2 linked regions of the Homo sapiens genome follow. The protein of the gene in region 1 binds, or shares a complex with, the protein of each later gene. Each region holds a gene or a part of one and is shown on either strand. Other genes may lie near its edges.

Region 1 (10,773 bases):
AGATGGAGACCAGCCTGAGCAACATGGTGAAACCCCATCTCTACAAAGATACAAAAATTAGCTGGGTGTGGTGGTGCACACTTGTAATCCCAGCTACTCGGGAGGCTGAGGTGGGAGGATTGCTTGAGCCTGGGATTTGGAGGTTGCAGTGAGTGGAGATTGCACCACTGCACTCCAGCCTGAGTGACAGAGACAGACTGTCTTAAAAAAAAAAAAAAGAGAGAAAAAGAAAGAGAAGAGAAGGCTGGGCATGGTGGCTCACACCTGTAATCCCAGCACTTTGGGAGGCTGAGGTGAGTGGATCACCTGAAGTCGAGAGTTCAAGACCAGCCTGGCCAACATGGTGAAACCCCGTCTCTACTAAAAATACAAAAATTAGCTGGGTGTGGTGGCGCATACCTGTAATCCCAGCTACTCAGGAAGCCGAGGCACGAGAATCACTTGAACCCGGGAGGTGGAGGTTGCTGTGAGCCGAGATTGTGCCATTGCACTCCAGCCCGGGCAACAAGAGTGAAACTCTGTCTGAAAAAAAAAAAAGAAAGAAAGAAAGAAGAGAAAAGACAGTGGAGTAGAATATCACTGCTATCATTGCAAAATCATCTTTTATGTCAGAAGTGGCTTAGGTGACCTAGAATAAACAGGTAAAATAGATATTAATGGAGTTGGCTACAAAGTTTTTCTACTCTGGATTTTAAAAAGAACATGAAGATGAAATTCTGGAGTGTTTGGCAAAAATATGAGTGATAACGACATGAATAATTTAAACCGGATGCTCTAGCAATCATTCACATACAGTTTCATTTGATATTTAAGGTTTATGATAGTTTGGGCCAGGGTAGTCAGGCCAGCCCTCCTCCAGGAGATAGTCCAGAGGAATTCTGGCAAGGAGCTGAGTGAGAATGAAGGCCTCTAGGGCAGGAATGGGATCTCTCCTCCTTGAACCCCAAACAAGACCAACGCAGCCCAGTAAAAGAAACTGTGTGACTAGTTTTGTTGTCTGTCCTAATTGAATGTGGAAGACCACTTCTAAGTCTGAACAGCTGCTAGCCATGGCCATCTTTGAGGGAACAGACACATACACAAATAAACCTATCTCTGAGAAAAACTCTCATTCTGAGTCTGGGAGACAGACTTTATAAAAAAGCTTGTTAAAGTCAGACAGTATCAGCCAGCCTTCATATGAATCCATGAAGTGATGTGTTGGCGTTTAGAATGCTGTTAGTAGTTATGGTCATTAATCTTGTGGGAGAGGGTGTGCTGGAACTAAAGGAAGATCAGAGAAGAACATCTCATAGGATGAAGACAGACTGAAATAAGTAGGACTCCTCAGGCTTGAAAAGACTGAGAGGAAATACAATTAGCATGAATAAACCCATGAAGAATATGGGTCATAGAATTGTTTACCAGAAGCAGGCAGAACCTCTTGAGAACAGAGGAAAAGTGAATTTAGGACAAAAAGAAGCTCTAATTTACCAAGAAAGTTGATCCTGTACACCAAAACCACTCTTTTGGGAACTAGGCTAACTAATGGCATTGAAGCGAAGTGAAAAAGTCAGCGGTTTCTTATTTTGACAGTATTTTCTTGAAGCGTGGAGGGCTCAGAGAACATAGATCAAGCATCCTGTTAGTCTCTATGTTTTCTTTTTTCTTTGCTTAGGTAAAATTTAAGTGTCGTTCATTCTTCATTCAACAATTATCTGCTGAGGGTAGATTCTATGCCATGTTCTCTGCTAGACACTGGGAGTACTGAGATGAAGGGGGACAGACATGGTTCTCACAGGCTGGTGATGAATAAGAAACTGCAATTGTCTGTGTAATGAATTTATAAAAGCCCAGTAGAGCTGGACGTGAATTGCTAACACAATCTTAGGATTGGAGCAGACTGCCCTGAGGATGGGATGATTAAGTTGAGACCTAAAAATGATGAGGTGTTGGCTAAGTCCAGAATTGGGGGAAGAAGGAACAGCATATTAGATGCCTCAGTTGAGGTAAGAGAGGGCATGGCTGGAGGATGTAGGGGAGTGAGGGCAATGAGGCTGGTGAGCTTGGCTGGAGCAGATCATGGAGTGTGGGGTAGACCATGGTAAGGGTTTGGGCTCGAGAGCTGGGCAAAGTCACTGGGGTGGCTTAAGCACGTATGGTCAGATTTTCTCTTTATAAGCAATCCAGTCACTGCAATGTGGAGAATAGGGGGCACAAGAGCAAATATACTGGAACTAGTGGGAGGATATTGATGTTGTTCAGGTGATGATGGCCTGGGCTGGACAGAAGTGGACAGATCCTAGAGCTACTTCAGAGGTCATATGAACTAGATTTGTTGATTAGATGTGAGAAATGAGGGAGAGAAATAATCAAGTTTGATTTACGAGAGTATGACAGCCAATTAGTACTCAGATTTTATCTGAGTGAGATGAATCAACACAGGCTTTTTTATAGGTCTCTTCTCTCGTAATCTCCAGATGACCCAAAAGTGAGTGGATCTGCCTTCTTTCCTCCCTGTCTCCCCCTTTCCCTCTTTCTCTCATGAATCATTCAGGGTCTAAATGTTTCAGGCTCTATAAGCTGGCACATAGTTGGCCCCTATGGATATGGGATAAGTAGAAAGATCAAAAGCTGCACAAATGATACCCTGTCTCCCAAATCCTCTTGTTTTTCTTTCTTTCTTTCTTTTCTTTTCTTTTTTTTTTTTTTCTGAGATGGAGTCTCGCTCTTTTTGCCCAGGCTGGAGTGCAATAGTGTGACCTTGGCTCACTGCAACCTCTGCCACCCAGATTCAAGTGATTCTCCTGCCTCAGTCCCCTGAGTAGCTGGAATTACAGGTGCCTGCCACCATGCCTGGCTAATTTCTTTTTGTATTTTTAGTACAGACTGGGTTTCACCACATTGGCCAGACTGGTCCCAAAGTGCTGGGATTACAGGCCTGAGCCACTGTGCCTGGCCCAGATCCCCTTGTCTTTAACTCTTGCAGAGCAAACTATACTACAGTTCATAGTACCCTGGTTGATTGACCTGAAAAAGAATTTAGCAAAGGCCAGAAAGGCAGTGGTATGTATAGAGACTCTATTTAATGATTTTAAAAATTTTTGTATTTTGAAATAATATCAGTGGTAAGACCAGAACAAGGAGTTTTCCTCTATTCTCTTTACTCAGCATCACTAGTCATTAACATTTTGCCATGTTGGCTTTGTCACTCTCCTCACCAGATAAAGATGGAGCTGGAGATTTAGATTTTTCTGAGCCAGTTAATTGTGGACATCAAGACCCTTCACCTCTAAATACTTAGAGGTATTATAAATAATTAGAATATTTTCTCAGAACAATGATTTTTCTTACATAACCACAGTACATTGATTAAATTCAGGAAATTTAACCTTATACAGTACTCTTATCTAATATGCAGTCTATATTCAGTGTTCACTTATTGTCTCAATAATGTCATTTATGGCTTTTTTTTTCCCCTTTTGATCTAGGATCCAGTCCAAGATATATTGCATTTTATTATTATGTCTTTTTAGTCTTCTTTAACATGGAACAGTTCCTCAGTCTTTCTTTGACTTTTAAGACATTGATATTTTGGAGGAGAACAGGCCAGTTGCCTTATGGAATACTCCTTAGATTGGCTTTATCTGGTTTCCTCATGCTTAGATTCAGATTGTGTGGTTTTGGCAGGCAAGCTGTGGGATGATGTCATGCTTTTTGCAGTGCACCTGCCATAGCAGGAAGGGAGGCATGAAGTAGAAAAACATTTCATAACTAAGAATGTTAACTTTGATCACTTGGCTAGAGTGGTGTCTCCAGGTTTCACTGTTCTAAAGTTACCGTTTTCTTCCTTATAGGTAATACTTTATTCAATTACCTCTTAATACTTACTCAGTCATTTTAAATGTGACTATGGTTTATTTCCATACTGTCATTTAAAGGAACATTTTTTTCCCCTTCTTTTGGCAGTGTTTTAGAGCACTTTGCTGCAAGGGACCACCACCTGCACGACCAGAATATGACCTGGTTTGCATAGGCCTCACAGGTTCTGGCAAAACCAGTCTGTTGTCCAAACTCTGCAGTGAAAGCCCCGATAACGTCGTGTCGACCACAGGTGGGTACTGTGCTGGGGTTCTGTCCCTTCTTCTTTCTCATCCCAAGATGTCCTAGTTTCCTGTGCAATTTATCCCCTCCCTTCTACTTATAGTTTAATGCTTTAATCAGTTTATTTTAATTTTAAACACTATCTCTTTTTCAAAAAAGATTTGAAATGAATTTAATAGCATTAAATTGCTGTATCCTATATCCCTCTAGCAGGTCATTTCAGTGGCACTGAATAAATGAAGCTTGGGAAAATATTAATACAAATGAATCCTGAAATCTGGAACTCTGATATATGACAAAATGGATTCATCTTGGGCCCATAGAGTACTTTCCTTCCTTGAAGTGTCACTCCAGCCTATGTTTCTTGGCCACACACTCCCTGAATAGTAAACTGATGTAGTCTGAATCTTCTTTCCTTGTCATTTTTCACCTGGAGGAAAGTCAGTGCAAGAGATCATGCATCAGCCTTCCCCTATTGCTTCCTGATGGAGCCAAGCAAAGTCAGTCTAGGGCAGTGGTTCTCAATCAGGGGAGATTATGCCTCTGAGTGGGACATTTTGGAGTCATTTGTGGGGAGGGGTATTACTGGCTTCTGGTGGATAGAGGCCAGTGGTGCTACTAAACATCCTTCAATGTACAGGGCAGCCCCCACAGCAAAGAGTTATCAGGCCCAAAATGTTTTCAGTGTCAAGTTATTAGTGAGAAATCCTGGCTAGGGTTTTTCTTCACTTCCCAAATGTGTCCTCTTTCTCTTCTGACAATGAAGAAGGAAAGAAGAGTATAAGAGGAAATAATGGAAGAACAGCTGTAAGAGATAGAGAACAGAGCTGCTGTGCAGAGAGAGCTGAGAAGGAAGGAGAAGGGTGAGATGTTTTCTGGAAAGTTGAAAAGATTGTTCATCAGCCAGCTTATTTTGAGCACCTACTATGTGCTAGGTCCAGTGTTAGACATGAGATAAGCGATGATTTCAGCATTCCAGGAGTCTCAGTATACTGGCTGCATAAACATTAAGTTCATATCCAGAAATAGATGGGGCATGGAAGGAAGGGGCATGACAGTGTTGCCTGGACCTGGGGAAGGGAAGGATGCATGATTTGGTTTGCTACATTAGATTTGAGGTTGATAAGTAGGTCTGGTACAAGAAATAAGGTGAGGGGGTGGAAAAGAAAGAGGACTTAGGAGCAGAGGGGCAGTGTGAAGGTAAGGAGTGTCAAACAGATTGGCAACTCCTAGAAACTGCATTTGTGTGTGGCTGCAGTGTATGTTTAATAGAGTGCCAGGAGACAAATTGTATTCAGTGGTGGCTGAATCTTAGCAGACCTTTCATACTGTGCTCAGGAGTTTGGGCTTTTCGTGTAGATAGTGCAGAGACATCAGAGTATTTTAAGCAAGGAAACTACATGATCAGATGTCCATTTGAGAAGAATCAAGCTGGCCATGATGTGGAGGCTAAATTGTGAGTAGCGCAGTTGGAGGCGGAGGCAGAAGATTACTGTGATGGTGCAACTGAGATGATGAAGGCCTTGGCTGAGGCAGTTACAGGGGGAAGAAGAGGAAGGAATAGGTAGGATATATATTTGAGAGCTAGAATTGACAAAGCCTAGTGTAGTTGGGTTTGGAGGGTGAGAGTGAGAAAGCCATGGCTGTCTCAATTCCTGGCTTACGTGATGGTTGGATGATGGAATTATTAACTAGGATTTCCTACAAAAAGTAGAAAGGATATTGTTGATCAAGAACCTTACTTCAGTTCACGTCAGCTTTTGCCGGCAAGTAAGTTTTAAAAAAGTGCAGGTTTTGAGAGCTTTTCAGATTTTAGAATTGAGATAAGAAACTGTGGAGCTGTTAAAGGGTTAGAGACATTGCTTGATTTTAGGATGAGGGAAAGGATAAGGGGATTGTAATGAGTAGAGACCCCAGAGAAGATTAGCAGAGCTCATGTGTAGCCTCTTTGCAGGAAGCTGTTTCTGACTACCTTCTTTTCTCCTTGGACAGAACTGAGTACTCCCTCCTCTCCCCACTGGGCGTTGTCCGTATTTCTCCCAGTTAGTGCCTGTAGCACTGCTTTATGTATGTGCCCATCTCCCCATCTTGGGTTAGAATCTCTTAAGGGCAGCTAGAGCATCATATGTGGTATTGTATACCCAGAGTCTGTCACAAGGTTTAGGCATGGATACAGATGTCTGTTAATAAGCAAATGAAAGTAAATTGAATCTATATAGTCTTCTGTTAGCCTTATAACAGCCCTTATATGACAGGTAGGAATCTTTTTCCATATTCTGTTTCTAAATTACCTGAAGATCAAAGGTATGGTGACATGGCTATTGTTACATAGCTAGAGATAGGATGCCAGTTCAGGTGTTCAAGTGAAGTTTAGTGGTATCCAAGGTTTAGGATTTCTGGTGGAAGTAGGTACTTTATTGGTTGTTTATAAAACTGTGAATATCTTTTGAGTAATGTGCAATGAAGTTATATAAACTTTATTAGCTTAAGTCTTTTCAATCAAAATAGCTTCTAAAATATGTGTAAGAGTAACACAAAGTATGCTTTTCTTCACTTATCAGAGTTATCTTCTAGCACTATTGCTAGAGGAGCAGTTTTGAATTATAGTGTAAAAGATTATCTGTATATAATTTTCTTACTTGTAAGTTATGTTTTGTGTTTGTTTTTATGAAATTTTTTAATAATACGTTTTACCAGAATTGTGCACTAGTCTATTTTCTGATGAATTAGTTGTTAGGTTGGCTAATTTTTTGGATATCAAGCTTCTTTGAGTTGTCATTGTTCTGAACCTGGCATAATGTCTTTTTGGAGGCCTCTTTGGAGGAAGCTGCCATCAAGAAGTTTACACCCAGGTTAGGAAGATAAGTTGTGTATTGATAAAAACAGTTCACATATATTGCTTATTTAATATACTCCAGGCTCTGTGCTAAGACAGAATGTGATATGTGTTATATTAATGGTGTAAATATGAAAGTTAAAAGAGGAGAGTGATCATTTCTAATCTGGAGGGTCAAAGAAAGCTCATAGTTAAGGTTACATTTGAGTAGGGTCTCATATGATGGGTAAGGTCTAAGCAGAGAGGAATGGGGTGAGGAGAGTTAGGGATAGAAAGCATAGGTATATTCAGAGAAAGATTAGTGGTCTTACTGGGTTAAGGCACAGCATGCAGAGATTTAGGGGATGTTGGGATCTAAGGCTAGAGACTTAGAGAAGCTGTTGGGGGAGACCTGTTAGATGTAGAGGTGATCCAGCAGGGACAATACTTGTGGGGATGTTACTGCTACTGTAAAAGTGACAGTTATGCTGGGTATTCAAGAGGAAAGGAAGATAAAACAATCAAATATGAGTCAAGTTTATAGCTTTATGTTTTGGTGAATTGTTAAAAAAAAAAAAAGTAGGGAGAATGTGACAGAGTTTTAAGATAAAAATAATGAGTTTAGTTTGGGGCATGCTGATTTTGAGGTTTGACAAGACATCCAACAGTGATCCAAATGCTAAAAGCCAAGCAGACTAGAGAGATTTGAGAGACAACTCAGTCATAGATTTGGATGAGCTTGTCCAGGGGTAATGGGTAGAAAGCGGGAAGAAAGGTGCTAAGCACCAATTATATTTTGTTAATTCATTCCACATTCATTGAATGTCTGTTATGTGACTGCCACTGATTTAAGGACTGAGGATATATCAGTTAACAAAATATACAAACAACCCTGCTCTTTGGAGCTTACATTACAGCATCTGCTTTTGATAAGGAATATAGGTCAGACAGTTCTATATAATATCCTTTAAGTCAAATATGGGCAAGAAATCAAAAGAACCAGTCAAATAAGGTAAACGTAAGTCTAAAGTCTGAGAAAGGCCATTGGATGTGGTGACAACGTGGTAATTAATAACTAATGGTAGAAACAGTTTCAGTAGAGTATTGAGGTGGAAACCAACCTGAGAATTGAGGGGATGAAGAGCAAGCAAAGGAATTGAGGGGTAGACCATCGTTTTCACTCCTTAACTCTTTGGAATATAGACAGTTCTTTCAAGAAGGTGGACAGAAAAAGAGAAAATAGTGCTAAGAGAATTTGTTTCTATAAGAAAAGGTCTCTTGAGCATGCTAGTAGTCAGAGGTTTAGGGTGGTCATCAGGGGAAAAGGCAAGACTGAATATGCTCAAGAGAGGGCAGTGAGCACAAGGATGAGTGAGGACTTCTTGTTCTGGTAAGATGGAATAACTGGAACTAGTTTACTCTCCCATCTAAAAGAAGAAGAACAACAACAGCAACCAGCTCATGAAATATACAAAGCAACAATTTTCAAGCCAGGAAACGCAGTTATCCCTGAGAAATGAGAAACAAATGAGATGTGCTCTGTGATTGTCCCAGCTTAATGCCTTGAGAGTTTCCAGGCTGTGGCACAGTTCCAGAGGGAGCTGAGGTGGAGCTCAGTGAACTCCCTGCATTGAGGAGATGAAGCCGAGAGCAAGGGGAGACCAAGATGGCTAATGTTCATAGAATAGAATACCAGAGAAAAGAGTTGTACAGAGAGAGAACACTAAAGATTTTCAGAGTCTCCCTTGAGTATCCAGCAAAATATTCAATGCATGCATGTGAGGAAACTTCCCAAGGCCAGGGCAAGAACCATCTTAAAGGACTAGAGGGAACAGTGGTTGGTGTTCATACAGGGTTGAAAACTATGCCTGTAATCACCAGATGGACTGAAAAACTTATAACTCACAAGGAACTGGGTAGAGTACTTGGCAAGGTCAGCCGTAAGTGGAGTACCACTCTGGACTCACATGACAGATAATATTAGCAAGTCCCAAAACCTCAGATGGTTGTCTGGTAATGTAATGCATCTCAGCACAAAGCTGTATAGGATTTAAAGAAAAAATATTCATCACTCAACAAGGTAAAATTCACAATGTCTGCCAGTCAGTCAAAGATTATCAGGGATGGGAAGAGGCCAGAAATCATGATTCATAATGAGAATAATCATCGAATTGGAACTGACCCAGAACTGATGTAAATATTAGAAGTAGCAAAGGGGGACATTAAAACTGTTATTATCACTGTATTGTATCTGTTCATAGAGACAATCTGAGAGAGAAAAAAATGCAAAGAGCATCCAGCGAGCTATGGGACAACTTTAAACCTAAGCTAGGGTAATTTGAGTCCATGAAGGTGAGTGGAAAGGGACAGAAAAATATTTGAAGAAATAATGGCTGAAACATTGTTGAACATGAAGAAAACTCTACACCTACAGATCCAAGAAGCTCACTGAACCCCAAACAAAAGGAACATGAGCAAGGCTGGGCACAGTGGCTCACACTTGTAATCCCAATACTTTGAGAAGCTGAGGCGGAAGTATCACTTGAGGCCAGGAATTTGACACCAGCTTGGGCAACATAGTAAGACCCCCATCTCTACAAATAAATAAATAAATAAATTAGCTGCATGTGTTGGTGCTTGCCTGTAGTCCCAGCTACTTGTGAGGCAGAAGTAGGAGGATTGCTTGATCCCAGGAGTTTGAGGCTGCAATGAGCTGTGATCACACTGCTTTACTCCAACCTGGGTGACAGAGAGAGAGACCCCATCTCTTGTGGGGGAAAAAAAGAGAGAGAGAGAAAGAAACGTGAATATAACTATACCAAGGCACATCATAATAAAATTGTTCAAAACCGGTGATAAAGAATATGATGTTTAATTTTGTGTGTAACTGGCTGGGTCCCAGTGCCCAAATATGTAGTCAGACATTAGTCTGGATATTTCTATAAGGGTAGTTTGGGATGAACTTAATACTTAAATCTGCGGATTTTGACAGATTGTCCTCCATAATGTGGTTTGGCCTCATCCAGCCAGTTGAAGGCCTGAATAGAATAAAAGACTTGCCTCCCTGGAACAAGAGGGAATTCTTCAGTAAATGGCCTTTGGACTTGAACTGCGTATTGATTCTTTCCTGGGTCTCCAGCCTGCCAGCCCAAACTGTAGATTTTGGGTTTATAGCAACTGTAATTGTGTGAGCCAATTTCTTAAAGTATTTCTCTGTCTCTATTTATATATATATATATAAACAAAGGTATATATTTATATCCATACATGCACCTATACATACATATAAATATGCATATAAACACACATCCTTTTGGTTTTTTTTTTCTCTTGAGAACAAAGTAGTACAAAGAAAATACCTTAAAAGCAGATAAAAGATGTTACATGAGTAAGAATAAAAATAAGGATGGCATCACATTTTTTCACTGGAAAAATGCAAGTAAGAAGACATTGGAGCAGCATCTGAAAGGGAAAAAACTGTCAACTAATATCCAGCAAAAGTCTCTTTTAAAAAGAAAGTAAAAATAAAGACTAGACTTTTTCAGACATACAAAATCTGAAGGAATTTATTGCTAGCAGATAAGCATTATAAGAAATGTTAAAAGAAGTCCTTGAGTCAGAAAAAAAATGATACCAGATGGAAATCTGGATCTATATAAAATGGAGACTGCCAGAAATGCAAATTATGTGGATAATTATATAATATTTACTTCTTATTATTTAAATATCTTTAAGAGGTATGTCTTTAAACAACAATAATAAGCACATATTATGGGGTTAACAACATATGTAAAAGTAAAATGCCTGAGAACAATAGCACAAAGGTCATGGGGAAAAAGGGAAGTACACTATTGGAAGATTCTTGTACTATATGT
Region 2 (10,773 bases), on another chromosome or scaffold:
AGCAGGCTGTGTAATTTCTGTGCATGACACTTATTTATTTTTTTTTTTTTGGTCCCGTGTGTGGGCCTCTGTTCTTGAGGGGTCTGCCGCCTTCATTGTCTGGGTTCTCAGTGAGTAGGTGAAGGTAGGGGCTGGCTGATGCCATGCCATTTGGTGGACTTTAATCACAGGCATTTGGAAAACATGTAACTAGCTTTTGTAAACCCAGTGCAGTCCTTTTTCTCCTCCTTAAACATCCACACTGGCCTTTCAAAGATCGAAGTACATTTTCTATAGCTTCTGTTCCTGCTTGCCTGGCAACTTGTGGGGAAGATTGAGGTCTGCCTTTGAGGGTAAGGGGTGGGGTAAACTAAGTATCGCCAAAAAAAATCACCCATTTTGGATGTGACTTCTCTTAGCTAGAAAAGAGTTGTTGTTGTTGTTTTAAATTAAAGTTATTAATATGTAACTTGGAAAGATTAGAGGTTAGCCAGCCTTTTGTGAAGAGGCTGTATGTCCCGTAGCCTTCTTCACTATTTGTTTACATTTATCTGACAACAGTTACAGTTGCCCAAACCAAGTGTGATTTTGGCAGAAAGCTTGAACCTTTAACAGTGGGATGAATCCCTCTATTGGGGCTTATTTATTTCTTGACTCTTTCAGTTTAACGTGTTCTTTTTTTCCACCTTGATCATCCGATACATTAAGTTGAAGTATGTCTCCGTCAACTCTCACCGTTCCAAGATGCTTATACAGTACATCATTTATATTTGTTCGTTTGACCATATAATGAACAGGTAAATAGCAACTTGTACTATTATTATTGAAGTTCTGAATGTTTCCAGTAAATAGTGTTATTTGAAAACCAAGGGATGCTGAGTTTTTGAATTATTAAGATGCTAGGGCATGTGCAGGTATTGAAATGTGTATGTAACCTTTCGTGACCTGATAGTCCTCAAAACCAAGTTTCCCTTCTTCAAATAGAATTTTGATCACTGGTAGTAGTCTCTCCTCTGAAAAAGGTGATATGTACCTGGTGACAGCTCACTGGATGTGATGATCTGAACATACTCAAAGAGTGTATGGTTGTCCTAATGCCATTTTTCTGGTTGAATGATGTCCTCTCTAGAACAGGATCACATTGTAGTAAGTTTTATGTAAAGGAACAGGGCAGAATGTGCTTTGAAGATTGGTAAATTTGCATTTAAAAGCAGAAGGAGGTTCTTCTGGTTTCTTAAATAGTAAAAAGAAAATGTCCAGTATCTCTAGGTGACATAGCTTCTTTTGGGGGTGTCATTCTTTCACCACTAAGTTGTTAATTAGAGCATCTAACTTCTTTCATTTTGCAGTAATATCTGTAATACAGAAAGATATATTGGGATGTTTGGAAATGCCCCTGAAAGTCTTTCTATTGCTAAATTTCCCAATATTGATACAGATGATCTATTGCATGAGTTTTTTATTACTTAGAATTTTGCACATTTACTCATGAATTGATAACACTAGTTTGTACTTCTTGCTGAAGTCTTTTCTTCACTTCTATATCTTTTTACCTTGAGAATTTAGTTTTTCACCTCACAGCTCCTTAATGCCGCCCTTACTCAAAATTTCAAAATTCGTATTATTTTGAAATTTGTGCTTGATTGACCTTGAACAATTTTTCTATGATGGATTTATTTTCATGAGGAGCTGTTTTTCCTTCAGAATTACCACTCAGTATTTTTTTGAAATGTATTCTTTAAATGATGGAATTACTAATATTTCCCTATGAATTCTAGAAAAATAATAATGCACAAGATTTAATTTTTGTCTTTAACTAGAATGATGTATTTGGTTAAGAAGATAGTCCAAGTTAAAGGCATACATTCAAGCTAGTGGCATATTCGGAAGAGCAGGCAAAGATAGTTGGTTGCAAATGGGAAATTTAAGCCATGATCTTAAAAGGACAGAATGGATATTTGTTACTTAAACTATGGGAATAATTGATTTTTTCACCTTCCCTTTCTTGGATTTTTTTTTTATTATCAGTTTGGTTACTTTAACCTTACTGTCAGTTATATTGGTTCTTTTTTTTATGTCTGAGTTAAAACATTTTACCTGATTTTCATGTCTTCATTTTCTAAATCAATTATGACAGTGTTAACAATCAACCTTTTATTTTTCTCTACTGAATAACGGCGTATTAAATGGTTTGAAGACTTTTTCTTCCTCTACCTCTCTCCTAAATTCCTCATTTACAAAAGAAAACCCAAAACAAAACAAACAACCCCAACAATACCAATTGTAACTCCCCAGACCAGTTAGATCATAGATCCAGATCTCATTGAAAATTATCCTTTTGGCTAGGCATGGTGGCTCATGCCCGTAATCCCAGCACTTTGGGAGGCCAAGGTGGGCAGATGGCTTGAGCCCAAGAGTTTGAGACTAGCCTGGGCTACCTGGTGACACCCCGTGCCTACAAAAAATACAAAAATTAGCTGGGCGTGGTGGTGTGTGCCTGTGGTCCCAGCTCCTTGGGAGGCCTGAGGTGGGAGGATTCCTTGAGCCTGGGAGGCGGAGATTGCAATGAGCTGAGATGGTGCCATTGCACTACAGCCTTGGGGACAAAGACCCTGTCTCAAAAAAAAAAAAAAAAAAGAAACAAAATTGTCCTTCCTAGTTAAGAACTTCTGTATTGAAGACTTTCCTGTATATAGCTGTAGAGAATTAGTCTGAGTTGTTCTTTATTAAAGAGGAGGAAATAGAATGTTCTGAATGTGGGAAGAAAAGCCACCTTTATATTAGTATATGTGAATGTCTTCTTTCTTCTTCCTTTTTTTTTTCCCCAAGAGACAAGGTCTCACTGTGTTGCCCAGGCTGGATTCGAACTGTGATTGTCTTTTTTCTCTGGCTACCAGGAAACTCTTGGCTTTATTTGAGACAGTAATTGTGCTGATTTTACAGTTTGATCATGATGATGGTGATGATTATTACTTACCTATGTATTCTGTGCCAGGTACAGGGGCTGGGGCTTTATATGAATCACCTTGTTTAAATCTCAAATGGCTGAATGAAGTATTATCTCCATTTTACAAATGAGGAAATTGACTTGGGTGAAATGATTTGTTCAAGGTCACACAGTAATTTGTGCCTTGGGGTTTTAACTTAGGTCTTTGTGACACCAGAACCTGCTCTCTTAACCTCTCTCTTATGCTGCTCTCCTTGATCCTGGTTTGACATTTCTATTTTACTGAGTGTGAGGTTTAGTCTTTTGTCTCAACACTGCCTCAGAGCCTGTTGGGCAATAGAAAAGAAATGTGTTTAAACATATATATGGCTTTAAACCCAGTGCTTCTGTGGTGTTGTGCATAACAACTGGTGTCCCCTTTTTTGCCATTAAAACAGTTTTTTGGCCTGTGTGATCCTAAGTCTAAAGAATTGTGTTGACAGCATTTGCATATCCAGCATCAAGATTCATTTTGGAAAGTTTTGTACTAACAATGTGCTGTACTAATGTGCTTCTTCCATGGGCTGCTCTACAGCTGTTTTTCCCATAGCTAAATTATGTAATCATGTTTCACTATTGGTTTCTTATCTGTTTCTGTTGCAAGGGTCACATAGTAATTGGTCAAACTCAGTTTTGTGTTTTAATCTTGGTTTTTATTTACATTTTTGAATCTATCTGTATAACTGGTTGCTAATGAGCATCCTTTACACAACTCTGCTCTCTGTATTCCATGCAAGGAACCTTTCTCTTTTTTTGTGTGTGTTAGTTTTGTAGTTACTTACAAGTCTAAATAAGAGAATAAATTCAGTAAATACCGCTAGAGGATTATGAGAATTTTAGAAAAACTAGAGCAATGTAGTGTAGGGGAAGGAAAAGCAAAATGAAAGGCTGCCACCTTTGTGTGTGGAAAGCATGTTAGAGGCTCTCCATTCACCTGACAAAACCGTCCTCACAAAAGATTGGGCCACCAAGTTGTCTATGCTGAGGTGCATTTGAAGAATTTGTAACCAGTTACTGTTTCATTGTTTTTCTTTTAGCTTTATAACAGTTGCATTCCAGTATTGCAGAGCATGCTATTTACAGCTGCTAGGGACTTAGCCAGCCTCTTTTCTAGCTTTTTCTTAGTAACAGGTGGGATCACCAGATAATGTTGTTCTTCAAGGAAAGAATGCACTGTACAGTTTTCACCTAAGATATTAGGTAATTTCTTTCTATAACTCAGCAAATCTCTCCATATTAATATACTGAGAGCTTAATATTAAACACATTTTTTTCTCACCAAATTAAGTGTTGTATTTGCCTTGAATCTAGGAAGTTGTTTTTTTTTTTTTAATTATTTTATACGTATTTGTTAGGGTCTTGCTATGTTGCCCAGGCCTGGTCTTGAACTCCTGGCCTCAAGCAATCCTCCCATCTGAGCCTTCCAAGGTGCTGGGATTACAGGTGCATGCCACCATGCCTGGCCAGAAGATGTTTTTATTAGTGTTTAAAGGTATGAATGGTGTCACCGGGAGCTGATATATTTGTTTTCATGATGTTGTACATTTATTTTTGTGCAGTAACATACATTAAATGATTGTAATTTTGTGTGTTTTTAGAACACTATTATGAAATATCCAGATAATACAGAATCAGAGCTGGAAGGCAGGCAGCTTGAGGATTATCTAGTCCAGTGTTTGCCAGATTTACCTGATGATAAGATTTACTTGGGGCTGGGTGCGGTGGCTCACGCCTGTAATCCAGGCACTTTGGGAGGCTGAGACGGGTGGATCACCTGAGGAAGGGAATTCAAGACCAGCCTGACCAACATGGAGAGACCTTGTCTCTGCTGAAAATACAAAATTAGCCGGGCATGGTGGCACATGCCTGTAATCCCAACTACTCGGGAGGCTGAGGCAGGAGGATTGCTTGAACCCGGGAGGCGGAGGCTGTGGTGAACTGAGATCGCACCATTGCATTCCAGCCTGGGCAACAAGAGCGAAACTCCATCTCAAAAAAAAAAAAAAAAAAAAAAAAAAAAAAGATTTACTTGGGTCACTTAATAAGAGTAAGGTCTTAGGCCTCACCCAGAGACCTCTGAATTGGGAAAGAGCTTTTGGAATCCATGTCGTTTACAGTTTCCCTGGGGTACTTCTTATGGTTAGGTGAGTTTAGGAAAAACTGGTCTAGTCAGCCCCTTGATTAAGGAAAGTAAACCCTGAGAAAGAGAAAAAACAAAGTAAATGACCTATTTAGGGCCACCTACCTAGCTAGTAGCATCAACTGAACTAGATCCCATGTCCCTGACTTCTAGATTGGAGTTCTTCCTGCTCCAGCAGGCTGGTCTTCTGGTCCCAAGTTATTCAGAGATGAAGGTAGCAGCATCATTGAAAAAACAAATAGTGAGTGTTACCGTTGGTTTTTATTGGTCTCGTGATTTTCCTGTCAATATGTTAGATGCCCTGGATTCAAGCAATTTTTGACAAGCATTTTATTATATAGAAAATAAGTCCAAGTGTGTGAGCTCATTTTTATTTAATTTTATGTTTTATTTTTATCTTAGTTTAACTGAGTTTTTTACTTTGTTGTGGTTAGACTAGGAGGGTATTTTAGGAAATGAGTGTTGATACCTAGGTTATTTGAAGCCTCAGGTAATTAAATATAAGATGTTTTATTTGACTTAGCTTATTTTGGATATCCTTTAATGATTTGTTTTCTCATTGATTATTTCTTCTGTGAGAGTAATGATGATTGGATTTGGTTAGGACTGTGGGGGTGAAGCTTCCTTGACTTTTCATTTCTGTTCACAGTACATACAGATCTGTAAAATTTCCATGGAAATGTTCATCAAAGCATTTGAAGCCCATGTCCTATTCGTGCATTTGTGTACCCTCTGTACCACACACCTCCCAAGTTTTAACAAATAATATAAGTGAAATTCTCACAGAGAATCATGCTGATTTGTAGAAGTTATTGCGTTACTAGGATCACCGAAGTCTGAGCATAGACATTTAGGTGAGGAGAGACCCTAGTTAAATACCAGCCCTGACTAAGTAGGAGCTGGATGAAGCGGGAAAGGAACTTGTCTGCGTTTTCTCTTGGTTTTTATGGGGATTACACACTATCTTTCCTGAAGCATTCTTAACCATTGTGAGGGGCTGGTTAATTTTAATTATTAGCAAATCTAAACACAATTTAAAATATCATCAACCAAGAAAACCCACAAAACAGACTGAACTGTTCTGTGGGTTTTCCTGCTTTTACTTATTTATTTTCAAAACAGGGTCTTGCTCTGTTACCCAGGCTGGAATGCAGTGGTGCTAGCTAGCATAGCTCACTGCAGCCTCGACCTCCCAGGTTCGAGTGATCCTCCCATCTCAGCCTCCAGAGTACCTGGGACCACAGGCGTGTGCCACCACACCCAGCTAATTTTTTTTTTTTTTTTTTTTTGAGATGGAGTCTCGCACTGTTGCCCAGGCTGGAGTGCAGTGGCACGATATCGGCTCACTGCAAGCTCCACCTCCTGGGCTCATGCCATTCTCATGCCTCAGCTTCCCGAGAAGCTGGGATTACAGGCACCCGCTGCCATGCCCGGCTAATTTTTTTTGTATTTTTAGTAGAAACGAGGTCATGCCATGTTGTCCAGGCTGATCTTGAACTCCTGGGCTCAAGTGATCTGCCTTCCTCGGCCTCCTGAAGTGCTGGGATTACAAGCATGAGACACCATGCCTGACCCCTGCTTTTATTTTCAATATAAAATTTTATGTTTACAAGCGTGAGCCACCACACCCAGCCTTACATAAACTTTTAAGAGCAAACCTGTAGAGTGTAATTAGATGCGTAGTTACTTATAAAGTGGTATATATTTTTCAAATGAGCCCTTTTCTCTAAATATATATATATGTGTGTATGTATATGTTATTGACAGTAAACTTTCAATTCATTAAGATTTGCTTGACATATAAAGAGTACTATTAAACTCAAACATGTGGAAGTGGATCACTAGGATTGAATACAGTTTTTTAAAGTATTGTCTTTTCATCTCTTTTTGTTTTTCTCAGAACACACAAACAAGAAACCCAAATCATACCAACACTGAAAAGAAGAGACAATAAGAAGCATTCTTTCTTTCAACATCACAGACATTGGCAACTCTAGGATGTCTATACAGAGGGATAAAAAGGGGTGGCAGTTGGCTGGGCGTGGTGGCTCATGCCTGTAATCCCGGCACTTTGGGAGGCCCAGGGAGGTGGATCACTTGAGGTCAGGAGTTCCAGACTGACAGTCTGGCCACCATGGTGAAACCCCGTTTCTAATAAAAATACAGAAAAATTAGCTGTGCGTGGTGGTGGGTGCTTGAATTCCCAGCTTCTTGGGAGGCTGAGACAGGAGAATCACTTGAACTTAGGTGGCGGAGGTTGCCGTGAGCTGAGATCACGTCACTGGACGACAAAGTGAGACTCTGTCTCAAAAAAAAAGGAGGGGGTGGTGGCAGGCTTTCGAAGGAGGAACTAGAGGTTTGTGGTCTAGCTTAGATGTTGATGGATAATGGGGATGCCAAACCCTCTCCCTGTGTTACATTAGTGCTATGACTGAACATAAACACTGCTGTAATGGACGGTGAGATCTTCGTGTCATCCTATTTAACCCTCCCTTGCTGTCATTCGGAGGTGGGAGTGCTTCTTTTTGAATTCACATGCTGTGGGGAGGATAGCATCTGTTAATGCAAAGGTTAAGAACAATGTGCTCTTCCTGGATCTGTTTTGGACAAGTAACTTATCCTCTTTAACCCTAAGTTTTTTTCAAAGTAAAATGGGGATATTTTCTAACTCATATGGTACTTAGTAAGAATTATTGTACTAATAAATATATAAATGTTTCTAACAGTACCTGGCACTTTGTGCTTAACCAGTATTTTTATTATAACAATTCTTTCTGTAGGCTCTTGGTTGTTATCTTAGTCTGTTTGTGCTGCTGTAACAAAATACCACAGACTGGGTAACTTAAAAATAATAGAAGGTGGCCGGGCATTGTGGCTCATGCTTGTAATCCCTGCACTTTGGGAGGCCGAGGCGGGTGGATCACCTGAGGTAAGATCACCAGCCTGGCCAACATGATGAAACCCTGTCTCTACTAAAAACACAAAAAATTAGCCAGCTGTGGTGGTGGGCGCCTGTAATTCCAGCTACTCAGGAGGCTGAGGGAGGAGAATCTCTTGAACCCATGAGGTGGAGGTTGCAGTGAGCCGGGATTGCGCCACTGCACTCCAGCCTGGGCAACAAGAGTGAAACTCTGTCTCAAAAAAAAAAAAAAAAAGAAATTTATTTCTCAGTTCTAGAGGCTGGGAAGTCCAAGATCAAGACACTGGCACTGGCGTCTGGTGAGAGCCTTCATATGGCATCCTCACATAGCAGAGAAATGGAAGGTGAAAAGGGCCTAAGCTAGTTCCCTCCAGCACTTGTATGAGGCGCTGGTTCAGAGTCCCCATGGCTTAATCACTTCCCCCAAAGGCCCCACCTCTTAATATCACTACTGTGGGGATTAAGTGTCAACATGAAATTTTGAGAGGACGCATTCAAACCATAGCAATTGTTCTTGGTCATTCTCTTGACTGGAGCCTGATAGTCAAGAGAGACATTTTAGCGTGTGTCCTTATAATTATTATTGGTGTTGAAATCTAAAAGTGGCTAGGCTCGCTGGGCGTGGTGGCTCATGCCTGTAATCCCAGCACTTTGGGAGGCCTAGGTGGGTGGATCACTTGAGGTCAGGAGTTCAAGACCAGCATGGCCAACATGGTGAAACCCAGTCTCCACTAAAAATACAAAAATTAGCCGGGCGTGGTGGCATGTGCCTGTAGTCCCAGCTACTTAGGAGGCTGAGGTGGGAGAATTGCTTGAACCCAGGGGGCTGAGGTTGCAGTGAGCCGAGATCATGCCACTGTACTCCGCCTGTGCGACAGAGCGAGACTCTGTCTCAAAACAAGAAAAAAAAGAGTGGCTAGGCTGGGTGCAGTGGCTCATGTCTGTAATCCCAGCACTTTAGGAAGCTTTTAGGAAAGCTGAGGCAGAAGGATTGCTTGAATCTAGGAGTTTGAGGCTGCAATGAGCTGTGATTGTACTACTGCATTCCAGCCTGGGTGACAGAGCAAGAGCATGTCTTTTTTAAAAAAAAAAAAAAAAAGTGACTAGTTATTGTAGGTTTTTTCTTTTCCTTTTTGTTGTGATTGAATCCTAAGCTTTGTTATTTTCCTAGCAGTTGACAAGGTGACTACATGCATATATATTTTTAAGGAAAACAGAACAATTTATTATAGGTTCTACTTTCCTTAGAGTAAGAATACTGTGTTTTAAAATAATTCTTCATTCTCTTTAATCATAAACAACTGAAAAAGACAACAAGTCTTTTGAGTTGTTTATCCGCTCATCCGTTGATAGACATTTAGACAGTTTCCACTTTTTGGCCATTATGATTGGTTATTATGAATAATGCTGCTGTGAACATTGGCATGCATTTTAAAAGCAAGTGCTTGTGGATTTTGGAAGCCCTTGAATAACCAAAGACTTTTAAGACTAAAGGAAGATCAAAAAAGATAAAATATTTTAACACTGATTGCATAAAAAGTATAAAAAATGGTAATGCCTAATATAGCAAGTTTGTATTGCTTATAGCAGTGTAAATTTATAATGATTTTGGAAGGCAACTGGGTGTCATAAAAATGATTTAGTATTTTTTTCCCCTGGAAATCTTAATTCAGTGATCCAAGAGAAGAAAAGAGCTATGTTAGCTTTTTATGTTGTATGTGTGTTGCAGCGTTATCTAGAAACAGTGAAAAATTGGAAGTAAATATCTAACACTTCAAGGCAAGGAGTGGAGGAGAAAGAGTTAAGAAAATTATAAATGTGAACTATTTCCAACCATTCAGTGATAATCTTGAAAGCCACATAGCAATATGGGAAAATTTGCACTGATTATTTGCACGGAATATAGACATGCAAAAAAATATATATATGTATACACTGGAAGGTAACGTGGAAAAAATGAAAATAGTTGATGTATTAGGGTGGGGTGATCATAGCCAGTCTTTGTGAAAATCTCCTTGTTAACTTTGTACATGATATACCTGGAAAAAATTCAAATCTGCTAAGAACATTATGAATCCTGATCTTGTGAAAACTAACCATTGCTCGTATTAAGGAACTCATTCCATTTCTCTTGAGGAACATTTTACTGCTGAAACAGTTGGTTCTTTTTTAAAATTTTAAAAATTGAGATATAATTCACATATCTTAAAACTCACCCTTTTAAAGTATGTGATTTGATGCTTTTTGGTATGTTCACAAGGTTGTGCAGTCATTACTACTGTCTACTTACAGAACATTTTCATCACCCCGAAAGAAACTCCATACCTCTTTGCAGTCACTTCTCATTTTCTGTTCCCCCTAGTCACTGGCAACTAATTTACTGTCTGTATGGATTAGCTTATTCTGGACATTTCATATAACATGTAAATGAAATGTGGCCTTTTGTGGCTGGCTTCTTTCATTTAACATGTTTTCAAGGTTCATCCATGTTGTAGCATGTATCAGTATTTCATTCCTTTTTACGGCCAAATATTCAGTTTTATAGATATACCACATGTTGTTTATCCACTCATCAGTTGATGGGCATTTCGATTGTTTCCACTTTTTGCCTATTAATAATGATTCTATGAACATTGGTGTGCATGTTGCATTCTTGACAAATCCCATTCTAGTCTGAAGATAGTTCAGTGGTCTCATAGAGTAGGACTGTGATTTAGTTTGGGCATGTTATTGGGGTGAGTTCTGAGC

The links.
Region 2: the proteins of ARL15 (region 1) and CNNM2 are in contact, whole or in part, in a crystal structure (PDB 8F6D), measured with the Homo sapiens proteins. Residues at the interface, in NP_061960.1 of Homo sapiens: Tyr92, Ser94, Arg95, Gln98, Gln128, His129, Pro130, Gln131, Cys133; in NP_060119.3 of Homo sapiens: Asn490, Val492, Pro521, Leu522, His523, Phe524, Val525, Phe526, Thr529, Glu537, Lys542, Ser543, Gln549.

The regions. Positions count from the first base shown.
Region 1 is NC_000005.10:54,165,104-54,175,876, reverse strand, and holds part of ARL15 (ADP-ribosylation factor-like protein 15), read left to right. Parts: intron 1-3,948; coding exon 3,949-4,093; intron 4,094-10,773.
Region 2 is NC_000010.11:102,920,340-102,931,112, forward strand, and holds part of CNNM2 (metal transporter CNNM2), read left to right. Parts: intron 1-7,005; coding exon of another isoform or gene 7,006-7,043; exon of another isoform or gene 7,044-7,279; intron 7,280-10,773.